3 linked regions of the Homo sapiens genome follow. The protein of the gene in region 2 interacts with the protein of the main gene of each other region in a pairwise test. Each region holds a gene or a part of one and is shown on either strand. Other genes may lie near its edges. The genes, in order: ZNF444, GIPC1 and TYRP1.

Region 1 (3,749 bases), about 42 Mb from region 2:
CAATTAAAAAAAAAAGATCCCTTTGGCGCTGTGTGGAGCAGGAACTGAGGGGCAGGAGGCAGAAGAGGCGAGAGTGGAAGCATGACAGTGTCTAAAGAGGCCATGGGGACTTAAACCAGGTGGTAGCCATAGACGGGAGAGCTGTGGACAGATTCTGCATCTATTTTGAAGACAGAGCCAATAGGACCTGATGATAGATTGCATGTGGATGGTGATGAAAAAGAGGAATTGGCTGGGCATGGTGGTTCACGCTTGCAATCACAGCATTTTGGGAGGCCGAGGAGGCAGATCACTTGAGGCCAGGAGTTCGAGACCAGCCTGGCCAACATGGCAAACCCCATCTCTATTAAAAATACAAAAATTAGCTGGGCATGGTGGTGCACGCCTGTAGTCCTGGCTACTCAGGAGGATGCAGCATGAGAATCACTTGAGACTGGGAGTCGGAGGTTGCAGTGAGCTGTGATCGCACCACTGCACTCCAGCCTGGGCAACACAGCCAGACCCTGTATCAAAAAACAAAACAAAACAAAACAAAAAACCAAAAAAAAAAAAAGAAAAAAGAATCAAGGGCTGCTTTTCTATTTTTGGCCTCAACATTTGGGTGAAGATGGACTTGCTTTCTAAGATGGTGGAGTAATGGGAAGGAACAAATTTCTTCGCAAGGTGGGGGAGAGAGTGAAAAATTATCTACTGCCCACCTTAGGTTTGAGATGCCTATTAAGAAATCCAAGAGGAGATGTCAAGTAGGCCATCGGATATGAGTGGGAAGAAGATCAGCGTGCTCTAGGAGCAGAAAGGAGGCATGACTGGAACTCATTAAACACGAGGAGAAGACAGTGGTAGACAGGTGGGCCAGGGCAGATTAGGCCACCGTGGGCAAACTGGTCACAAAGTTCTGAGTCAGCCACTCATCGCTTGTGAAACCTGGGGAAAGTTGTTCATTTATGAATATAAGACGAACAACTTCCATGTAATGAATGCTTGTTATGGGTAAGCCACTGTCTTCGTTTTTATGGCGCGGAGTCTTCAGATCAGCCGGGGAGGTGGAGGATGGGAGGGGGATTCTCTTATCCTTGTTGTACGGAGGAGGAAATACGCTGCGGGCTGGGGTAGGGCTTGTATGAGCCATAATCAGGTCTGGAACTGTCTAGATAAAAACTTCAGCTGATCTCTTAGGATGTCTGTCTGCTCTAAAATCCAAATATGCTTCTTCACAGTTCTGAGATGCAGAAACTGAGGCCTCAGGACGGGGCAGTAGTCTGTCCAATAGGGGCACAGCGAGGACGCGTGGCAGGTAGCGCTGTCCCCCAATTCACCCCAGGGGAAACTGAGGCTAAAGAGAGGGCGGTGTCCTGTCCAGGTTCACACACAGGAAGAGCCAAACCGAGGCCCCCGCGCTGGCCCCCTCCTGAGCCACTGCCCACCCCGGAACAGGAGGGCAGCCTGCTCACGTCCTGATTCCTGGCACCGACATCGGCCCTTAAGTTCTGCCCGGGTGGAGAGGGAGGACAAAAAAAAATGCGATCCGTAGTCAAGGAGACGTAGCCTGCACTCCTGATTGGCGCAGAACTCTAGCCTGGTCTCCTCCTCCTCCTCCTCTTCGCTTGCCAGCTTCTAGAGCTCCGGAGGCCCCACCTCCCAAATGCCCGGCGGTGCCCGGCCTCCCCTGATCTCCACAACAACGCCGCCATGGCTCCTCCTCCTCCTCCCTCTTTTTTTCCCGGCACTTCTGCGCATGTCCAGGGCCCGCGCGCAGACCACTGGGAAGCCTCCTCGTGCATTCTGGGAAATGTAGTCCAAAGCCTGTCGCGCTCAGACAGCCCGCGACATTTGCGCCGTCAAGGCCAAATAGGCTGCAGACGACGCTTTCGCGTATCTTGGGAAATGTAGTTCCAGTGTTGGCGAAGACGCCACGCGGTGACAAACAGGAGTAAGGCGGTCCCCAGGCGAGGGCCAATTGGCAGCCGCCTTTGCCGCGATGCTTCCTGGGAGTTGTAGTTCGGGGTGAGGCCGGGGCTTCATGGGGAGTTGTTGGGCTGAACGAGCGGCTCGGAGTATGGGATTGGGGGAGGGGGACGGGGGAGTTTGGCGCAAAGCCTGCTGGGGCATGGAGTCCCGGCGAGCTTTGTGCGCATGTGCGGGGAGGTGAGGGGGCTTGGGGGGCCTCGCCTGAGAGAGTGAGGTGAGCGAGGGGGGAAGGAGGGAGGGATTGGGTGGGGGCGGTTGGACGAGGGAGGGACCAGAGGTTGGATGGGAAGAGGGGCGCCGGGGGCCTCAGGAGGGAAAGATGGGAGACTTGCGGGGAGGGGAGGAGAAGGGGGCTGAGTGATGGGGAAGGGGCTGGGAGAGGGAACTAGAGGGGGAGGGACTTGGAGAGGGGGAGGGGTGGATAGTGGGAGGGGGTCGTGGATCCTCGAGGTCCTGAACGCGGGAGAGAAATGCTGAGGGAGAGGACGGGGGAGGGGCGCCTGGGGGAGGGGGAGGGGCGGGACGGGGGAGGGACAGGTGGGGGAGGGGAAGGGGACCCTAGCAGAGGGTGGGCTGTGAGATGAAAGCTGAGTGGGAAGCTGGACCCTACAAAGGAGTCTGGGGGCGCCGGGACCGGACCCCTTCGGAAAGGTTTGCGGGAAGGGGCTTCCGGGGACGATGGTTATTGTTGTAACGTAGATACGGCGCAGGTGGCTCGTTTTGCGCGCTGCTTCTACAAGTGCAACTTTTACAGAGTTGTGAGATTCCTGAAGATAAGAATCGTTGCTCTGTTTTGCTGCTTTCTCAGTGCGGAGCATCTGCCTTTTTAGCTTGTTGCAAGGCATTATTACCTTCGGTAATATGTGTAAAGTGCTTAGAAACTCTGTTTATTGTCAAATGAAGTTGACCCCCGCCACCTCTACCCCAGTCAGGATGGAGTCACCCTCCTCTATATCCGATTTTAACGCCTATTCCAATGTATACTTAGTATTTTAATCTGCGTGCGTGTTCATAGCAGTGTCCCCTGGGCACCTCGCAGGGAAACTTCGACAAAGTAACCCTAAGTCTGACTGGACACTTACTAGCCAGGTGTGGTTCTCAGCATTTTTGTTCTCCTTCTATCACTTTACAGTCAACGAAATGGAGATACAGGGTATTACAAAAGGTGCCTTGTACCTCGTCCAAGGACACAGAGCTGGTAGGAGGCAGAGCTGGAATTTGCCCCAGAGCCTTTGTGCCGTAGGTAAATATTTGTCCAGTGGGCCAGCGGCTCTCAACCAGGAGTGGTTTTGTCCCCCAGGGGACATGTGGCAATGTCTGGAGACTTTTTTTTTGGTTTTTCCAACTTGGGAAGTGCTACTGGCATCTCATGAAAAGAGGCAGAGATGCTGGTAGACATCGTATGTTGCACAGGATAGCCCGCCACGACACAAGTGCCATTAATGTCGAGGTTGGGAACCTAGAGTAGACAAACCGGTCTTTGTCGAGCACTTAGCCTTTGGAGGCTGCTTCTAACTCCTGCTCCCAGCAGCCTCTTGAGAGGAAGGAGCTCTTGTTAGTCCTGTGTCTCAGGTGGAGAAATGAAGCACAGAGGGGGTAAGTCACACGTCCACAGTCACACTGCTGATGAGTGGCAGAGCTGGAAGTTGAAGCCAGGCAGCCAGACTCCACAGCCTCTTAGCCATGATATTAACCCAGCATATGTGGGTGCTGGTGCCGGGGTACTAGGTGGAACTGGTGTGGACTCTGGAGTCACATCTGGGTCCCATTTGTGGCTCCTT
Region 2 (3,749 bases):
ATGGGGACTCAGCATCCAGCCCAGGCCATTGGCCCCCACCACTGAGTGGGGCCCAGGCTCAGCATCTGCAGCTTCAGCATCTGAGCCCCAGCTCATGAACAGGATGCAGGCCCAGACCTCTGGTCCACCATCAGGGACCCTGGTGCCCGGCTCCCCAGTGGATACCTCGGCAGTTGGCAGGCGGAAGGCCTCGGCGATCTTGCCATACAGCTCCTTGACGTTGGTGAAGCCCTCGATGCGGCCAGTGGGACTGCCATGGGCCAGCTGGGTGTGGAACACGAGGCGGGGCCGCAGGGCTGGGGGAGGGGGGGGCAAGCCCATTTGGGGGCCCCCCGACCCACCTCCGCCCAGAGGCCCTGGCTCCCCCACGCCCAGCCCTCCACGGCCTGGCTCAGCCTCCTCATTTTCCACTAGAGGGGGCGCCTTTTTCCGCCGCCCCAGTCCCAGCGGCATGAGCAGCGAGAAGTGGGGTCACCAGAAGATCTGCAGGACAGGAAGTGGGGCTCAGGGCCTGGGCAGAGGCCTTGGGTGCCCCTCCCACACTACTCGAACCATACAGGCCCAAGGAAATACTCAGAGAACAAATTGGCCTCGGTTGAAATCCTCATCTCTTGTATAGTGACAGGACACTTATATAAAAGTAATAATAGGGCTGGGTGCGGTGGCTCACGCCTGTAATCCCACCACTACGGAAGGCTGAGGTGGGCGGATCACTTGAGGTCAAAACTTTGAAACCAGCTTGGCCAACATGGTGAAACCCCACCTCTACTAAAAATATAAAAATTAGCCGGGTGTGGTGGTGTGCACCTGTAATCCCAGCTACTTGGGAGGCTGAGGCACAAGAATAGCTTGAACTGGAGAGGTGGAGGTTGCGGTGACCCAAGATCGCACCACTGCACTCTAGCCTGGGTGACAGACTAAGGCTCCGTCTATAAATAAAATAAAATAAAATAAAAAGCTCACACCTGTAATCCCAGCACTGTGGGAGGCTGAGACGGGAGGATCACTTGAGGTCAGGAGTTCGAGATGCCTGACCAACATGTCGAAATCCCATCCCTACCAAAAACACAAAAAAATTAGCCAGGCATGGTGGCGCATGTCTGTAATCTCAGTGATTCAAGAGGGTGAGGCATAAGAATTGCTTGAACCCAGGAGGCAGAGGTTGCAGTGAGCCAAGATCACACCACTGCACTCCACCCTGGGCAAAAGAGCAAGACTCTGTCTCAATAATAATAATAATAATAATAATAATAATAATAATAATAATAATAATAATACCAGCTAGGATTATTGCTTTGTGACCTTCCTTGTGTGTTTCATTTGTTGTTGTGACAGGGTCTTGCTCTGTCACTTAGACTGGAGTGCAGTGGTATAATTAAAGCTCACTGCAGCCTTGATCTCCCAGGCTCAAGGGATCCTCACACCTCAGTCTCTCAAATAGCTGGGCCCATAGGCACATGCCATGAAGCTCAGCTAACCTTTATTTTATTTTTTTGAGATGGAGTCTCACTCTGTCCCCTAGGCTGGATTGCAACGGTGTGATCTTGACTCACTGCAACCTCTGCCTCTCAGGTTCAAGTGATTCTTGAAGAAGAGACCCTGACTCTTTTTTTTTTTTTTTTTTTGAGACTGAGTCTCACTCCGTTGCCCAGGCTGGAGTGCAGTGGTGCAATCTCAGCTCACTCACTGCAATCTCTTGCCTCCCGGGTACAAGCGATTCTCTTGTCTCAGCCTCCCAAGAAGCTGGGATTACATGTCTGTGCCACCACACCGGGGTAATTTCTACATTTTTGGTAGAGATGGGGTTTCACCAAGTTGGCCAGGCTGGTCTTGAACTCCTGACCTCAAGTGATCCGCCCACCTCAGCCTCCCAAAGCGCTGGGATTAAAAGCGTGAACCACTGTGCCTAATGCTCAGCTGACGTTTTAAAACTTTTTGCAGGCCGGGTGCGGTGGCTCATGCCTGTAATCCCAGCACTTTGGGAGGCTGAGGCGGGTGGATCACGAGGTCAGGAATTCAAGACCAGCCTGGCCAACATAGTGAAACCCTGTCTCTACCAAAAAAACACAAAAATTAGCCGGGTGTGGTGGCATGTGCCTGTAGTCTTAGCTACTCAGGAGGCTGAGGCAGGAGAATTGCCTGAAACCTGGGAGGCGGAGGTTGCAGTGAGCTGAGACCGTGCCATTGCCTGGGTGACAGAATGACACTCCATCTCAAAAACAGAAAACAAAAAACAAAAAACAAAAAACACTTTTTGCAGAGATGAGGGGTCTCAATATGTTGCCCAGAGTGATCTCAAACTCCTAGACTCAAGCAATCCTCCTGCCTCGGCCTCTCAAAAGTGCTGGGAGTACAGGAATGAGCCATAGTGCCCGCCTGTAATCCCAGCACTTTGGGAGGCTGAGGTGGGCAGATCACCTGAGGTCACGAGTTGGAGATCAGCCTGGCCAACATGGTGAGACCCCGTCTCTACTAAAAATACAAAAATTAGCTGGCCGTGGTGGCGGGCGTCTGTAATCCCAGCTACTCGAGAGGTTGAGACGAGAGAATCGCTTGAACCTGGGAGGCAGAGATTGCAGTGAGCTGAGATTGCACCACTGCACTCCAGCCTGGGCAACAGAGCAAGACTCAGTCTCAAAAAAAAATAATAAAAATAAATAAATAAAAGAGTCAGGGTCTCTTATTGCTCTGTCCCCAGGCTGGAGTGCAGTGGGGTGATCACGATAATGGCTCACTGCAGCTTTAACCTCCTGGGCTCAAGCCATCCTCCATTCTCAGCCTCCCAAGTGGCTAGAACTACAGGCATGTACCATCACACCCGACTATTTTTTTTTTAAATTTTATTGTAGGCCTGGTGCGATGGCTCACATCTGTAATCCCAGCACTTTGGGAGGCTGTGAGCAGAACACTTGAGGTCAGGAGTTCGAGACCAGCCTGGCCAACATGGTGAAACCACATCTCTACTAAAAGTACAAAACTTAGCTGGGCATGGTGGCAGACGCCTGTAGTACCAGCTACTGGGTAGGCTGAGGCAGGAGAATTGCTTGAACCCAGGAGACGAAGGTTGGCAGTGAGCAGAGATCGTGCCAATGCACTCACTCCAGCCTGGGTGACAGAGATAGACTCCGTCTCAAAAAATAAATAAATAAATAAATAAACAAATATATATATATATATATAGAGAGAGAGAGAGAGAGAGAGAGAGAGAGAGAGAGAGACAGAGAGAGGGAGAGAGAGAGAAAGGAGTTCTTTTTTTTCTTTTTTTGAGACAGAGTCTCACTATGTCACCCAGGCTGGAGTACAGTGGCGCGATCTCGGCTCACTGCAAGCTCCACCTCCAGGGTTCACGCCATTCTCCTGTCTCAGGCTCCGGAGTAGCTGGGACTACAAGTGCCCGCCACCATGCCCAGCTAATTTTTTGTATTTTTAGTAGAGACGAGGTTTCACCACGTTAGCAAGGATGGTCTCGATCTCCTGACTTCATGATCCGCCTGCCTCGGCCTCCCAAAGTGCTGGGATTACAGGCGTGAGCCACTGCGCCTGGCAAGGAGGTGATCTTTCTCTGTTGCCCAGGCTGGTCTGGAACTCCTGGCTTCAAGGAGCTTTTGGCCTCCCAAAGCTCTGGCATGACAGGTATGGGCCACCGTGCCCGGCCTGTGACCTTCCTTAACCCTCACACCACACTGTAACACAGGGATCACGTTATGCTACAATTATGCCCATTGAACAGATGAGAAAATGGAGGCTGA
Region 3 (3,749 bases), on a different chromosome or scaffold from region 2:
GATTTATATTACCTTTCTTTAATCTTACCTATGGATTTTATGTTTCTGTGACCTTGTCATGTTGATTTCTGCCCACTGTTGGCATTTTTGTTGGAATTTTCTGTCTTTTTAACATTATAAATCTTTGAAAATTAGGTGATATAACATAGTAGTTAAGACCAGAGAATTATTCTATGACTTTGGGCACATTTTTCCAAGTCTTAGTTTTTTTTTAATCATTAAAATGTGGATAAAAATAATACTTGCTTTACAGAATTGAAAGTTCAAAGACCACACACATAAAAAGCAATTAGCCCAAGGCCTAACTCATAGTAAGGACTCAATACATGTTCATTTAAACCCTTAGTCTACTATCTCGCACATAGAACACAATCAAATATTGTTGGCTGTTACTGTTTAGTGCTTTGTTATTTAATGCTATTTAGTCTGCAGGCCAAACTCTTCATCTCAAATGCTGAATTTGATCATCATGGTGGGAAACTTCTTTAAGGGTCAGCAGGGGTAGTTGCAGAACTAAAATATAAGGGCTAGGTAGATCTCAGCATGAATTCCAGGTTTACTAAATATCACCTGTGTGGATTTGAACTTTCTGAACCTCATCTATGACAATTAACATGTTTACCTGAAGGAGTTACTGAATTGACTAGTCATAATACCTAACACAGTTCCTAGGATATAGTGGTTGCTCAATAAATGTTTCAGAATAAAATATTGATCAGAAGTTCTGAGCTTCAACTCCAACCCTTTACATTAAACAAGTTTCTTAACCTTTCTAAGCCTCAGTTTCCTCAACTATGAAAAGAGAGGGTTGAGCTATATGATTTCCAGGTATTCCTCCAGCTCAAATGATTTAAGATTTTATTAAGAGCCTTGAGTCTCATGCAGGACTTATGAACTCATTCATATCTCCACTTACCTATGAGAACCCTCTGGTCACAGGCAGCTCCTCTCCAGCCAGGACGGCACGTCCCACAGTTGTGTCCTGAGAAATTGCCGTTGCAGTGACATGTCCTATTGAAGAAGCGCAAGGGCCAGACCTCCCGATCATCTCTGCCATCATGGGGATACTGAGGGCTGTGGGGCCGGGAGTCTGCAGTCACTGCCTCACATCTGCCCCTCCCTGATGATGAGCCACAGCGGTCTGTCCCAGGCCCAGACACAGGGGACAGGTCTGGGCAACACATACCACTTCTCAAAGCCTCAACAGTGGCACACTGTCTTGGGAATTGAGCCCGGGCCTGCTGAAAAAGTAGCAAGGGGAAGAAGATACAGCCCAGAGAGAGGAGTTTAGGAGCACTCATTCTGCTTGAAATAAGAGTGCAAAACAAAGACCTGGTTTGCAGCTCTTTGTGTAGAGAAGACTGAAGCACGTAGAGGAAAATCCAGCTGAAAAAGAGAAAGTAAAATGAGATTATGCAAGTTTTTCTTGGTACTTAAAATGGTATGCCCCCTTCCCAAACCACTTTCAAAATGGAACCCATATGTAAAATGACATTTCACACAAATAATAAAAGTGTGACATTTCACACAAATTTTACCTTTAAAATTTGGCATATATAACACCTGCATGTGTGATACCCAAATAATTAAATTCCCTGTCCTCGTCATTTTGTTTATATATATATACATACTAGATATCAGTTATCAAAAGCATGAATTAGCAGGTCACCATCATTAATTACATTTAATTTAACCTTGGAGCTGAAGGAAGAATTGGGAACAGATTTCCAGCAAGTTAATTTCTGTGATTTAAAGTCCCTTACACTAATGGAGTTTTGGCACGTGTCCACCCACTCCCCATAGGACTTCTTTCCAGTACCTCACAATCCTGAAGGATGTCTCTGATGAACTTCTCTTAGAATTGAATGTTTTATATTTGCTTGTGTTTCTTGTCCTCTCACGTCAGAACTGTTAAGTGCATGTGGATTGCTGCCTGATAATTAATCCCAAATCTGCTCACCCAAACTAGGCGGGGGGCTGGTCTTTTTTTCCACCCTTTACTAATCCTTTTCACTTCAGTGAATATTTCTGCCCTTTAAGGACTTGATCAGCACATGATTCCCTTCCAACTGATTTCCTTGTGATGCTTAAAGTTTTAAGAAAAGGCCAGAAGCACTAATTTGGAATACAAGTCAGATAAACTAGTGAGATTTGTTTACTTTGCAGAGATTTTTTTTTATTCTGTTATTCAACTGTTATTCAACATATTACCTTGCTAGAGCAACCAGGCAAGAGAAGGTATAAAGAGCATCCAAATTGGAAATGAAGAAGTCAAATTATCCTTGTTTGCTGATGATAAGATCTTATATTTGAATAAAACCTAAAGACTCCTCTAAAAAACTATTAGAGCTGACAAACAAATTCAGTAAAGTTGCAGGATACAAAATCAGCATACCAAAATCAGCAAAGTTTCCATATACCAACAGTGAAAAATGTGAAAAAGAAATAAAAAAGTAATCCCATTTACAATAGCCACACATAAAATTAAATACCTAGGAATTAACCAATGAATGAAAGGTCTCTATAATGATAACTACAAAACATTGATGAAAGAAATTGAAGAAGACACCAAATAATGGAAAAATATTATATGTTCATGGATTGGGAGAATCAAGATTGTTAAAAAGTCCGTATTACCTAAAGCAATCTACAGATTCAATGCAATTCCTATCAAAATACCAAAGACATTCTTCACAGAAACAGAAAGAAAATCCTAAAATTTATATGGAACACCAAACCTTGAAGAGGCAAAGTTATCCTAAGCAAAAATAACAAAACTGGAGGAATCATATTACTTTACTTCAAATTATACTACGGAGTGATAGTAGCAAAAACAGCATGGTACTGGCCTAAAAACAGACACATAGAGCAATGGAACAGGAGAACCCAAAAACAAAATCACACACCTACAGTAAAGACATTTTTCACCAAGATACCAAGAACATACACTGGGGAAAAGACAGTCTTTTTAATAAATGGTGCTGGCAAACTACATACCCATATGCAAAAGAATGAAACTAGGTCCCTATCTCGTTCCATATACAAAAATCAAATAAAAAATGATTTGATTAAATATTTAAATCTGAGACCTCAAACTATGAAACTACAATGAAGAAACATTGAGGAAAATCTTGAGGACATTGGTCTTGACAAAGATTTCTTGAGCAATACCACACAAGCACAGGTAGCCAAAGCAAAAATGAACAAATGGGATCACATCTAGTTAAAAATCTTCTGCACAGCAAAGAGTACAATCAATGAAGTGAAGAGACAACCCACAGAATGGGATAAGATATTTGTAAACTACCCATTTGACAAGGGATTAATATCCAGAATATATGAGAAGCTCAAAAAATTCTATAGAAAAAAATTAATAATCCAATAAAAAAATGGGCAAAATATTTGAGCAGACATTTATCAAAAGAAGACATACAAATGGCAAACAGACTTATGAAAAGATACTCAACATTATTGATCATTAGAGAAGTACAAATCAAAACTATTGTGAGATACCCTCTTACCCCAATTAAAATGGCTTATGTCCAAAATTCAGGCAATAAGAAATGTTGACAAGGATGTGGAGAAAAGGAAACCCTCATACAGCGTTGGTAGTAATGTAAATTAGTACAACCACTATGGAGCAAAGTTTGGAGTTTCCTCAAAAAACTAAAAATTGAGCTACTATATGATCCAGCAATCCCACTGCTAGATATATACCCAAAAGAAAGGAAATCAATATATTGAAGAGA

The links.
Region 1: the proteins of GIPC1 (region 2) and ZNF444 interact in binary tests that used the Homo sapiens proteins (3 or more experiments, as listed by UniProt).
Region 3: the proteins of GIPC1 (region 2) and TYRP1 interact in binary tests that used the Homo sapiens proteins (3 or more experiments, as listed by UniProt).

What each region holds. Positions count from the first base shown.
Region 1 is NC_000019.10:56,139,176-56,142,924, forward strand, and holds the start of ZNF444 (zinc finger protein 444), read left to right. Parts: upstream 1-2,111; 5' UTR 2,112-2,182; intron 2,183-2,522; exon of another isoform or gene 2,523-3,057; intron 3,058-3,100; exon of another isoform or gene 3,101-3,749. UniProt on the Homo sapiens protein: Transcriptional regulator. Binds to the 5'-flanking critical region of the SCARF1 promoter.
Region 2 is NC_000019.10:14,482,524-14,486,272, forward strand, and holds part of GIPC1 (PDZ domain-containing protein GIPC1), read right to left. Parts: intron 484-3,749; 5' UTR 454-483; coding exon 166-453; intron 1-165. UniProt on the Homo sapiens protein: May be involved in G protein-linked signaling.
Region 3 is NC_000009.12:12,691,549-12,695,297, reverse strand, and holds the start of TYRP1 (5,6-dihydroxyindole-2-carboxylic acid oxidase precursor), read right to left. Parts: upstream 1,914-3,749; 5' UTR 1,820-1,913; intron 1,387-1,819; 5' UTR 1,302-1,386; coding exon 917-1,301; intron 1-916. UniProt on the Homo sapiens protein: Plays a role in melanin biosynthesis. Catalyzes the oxidation of 5,6-dihydroxyindole-2-carboxylic acid (DHICA) into indole-5,6-quinone-2-carboxylic acid in the presence of bound Cu(2+) ions, but not in the presence of Zn(2+).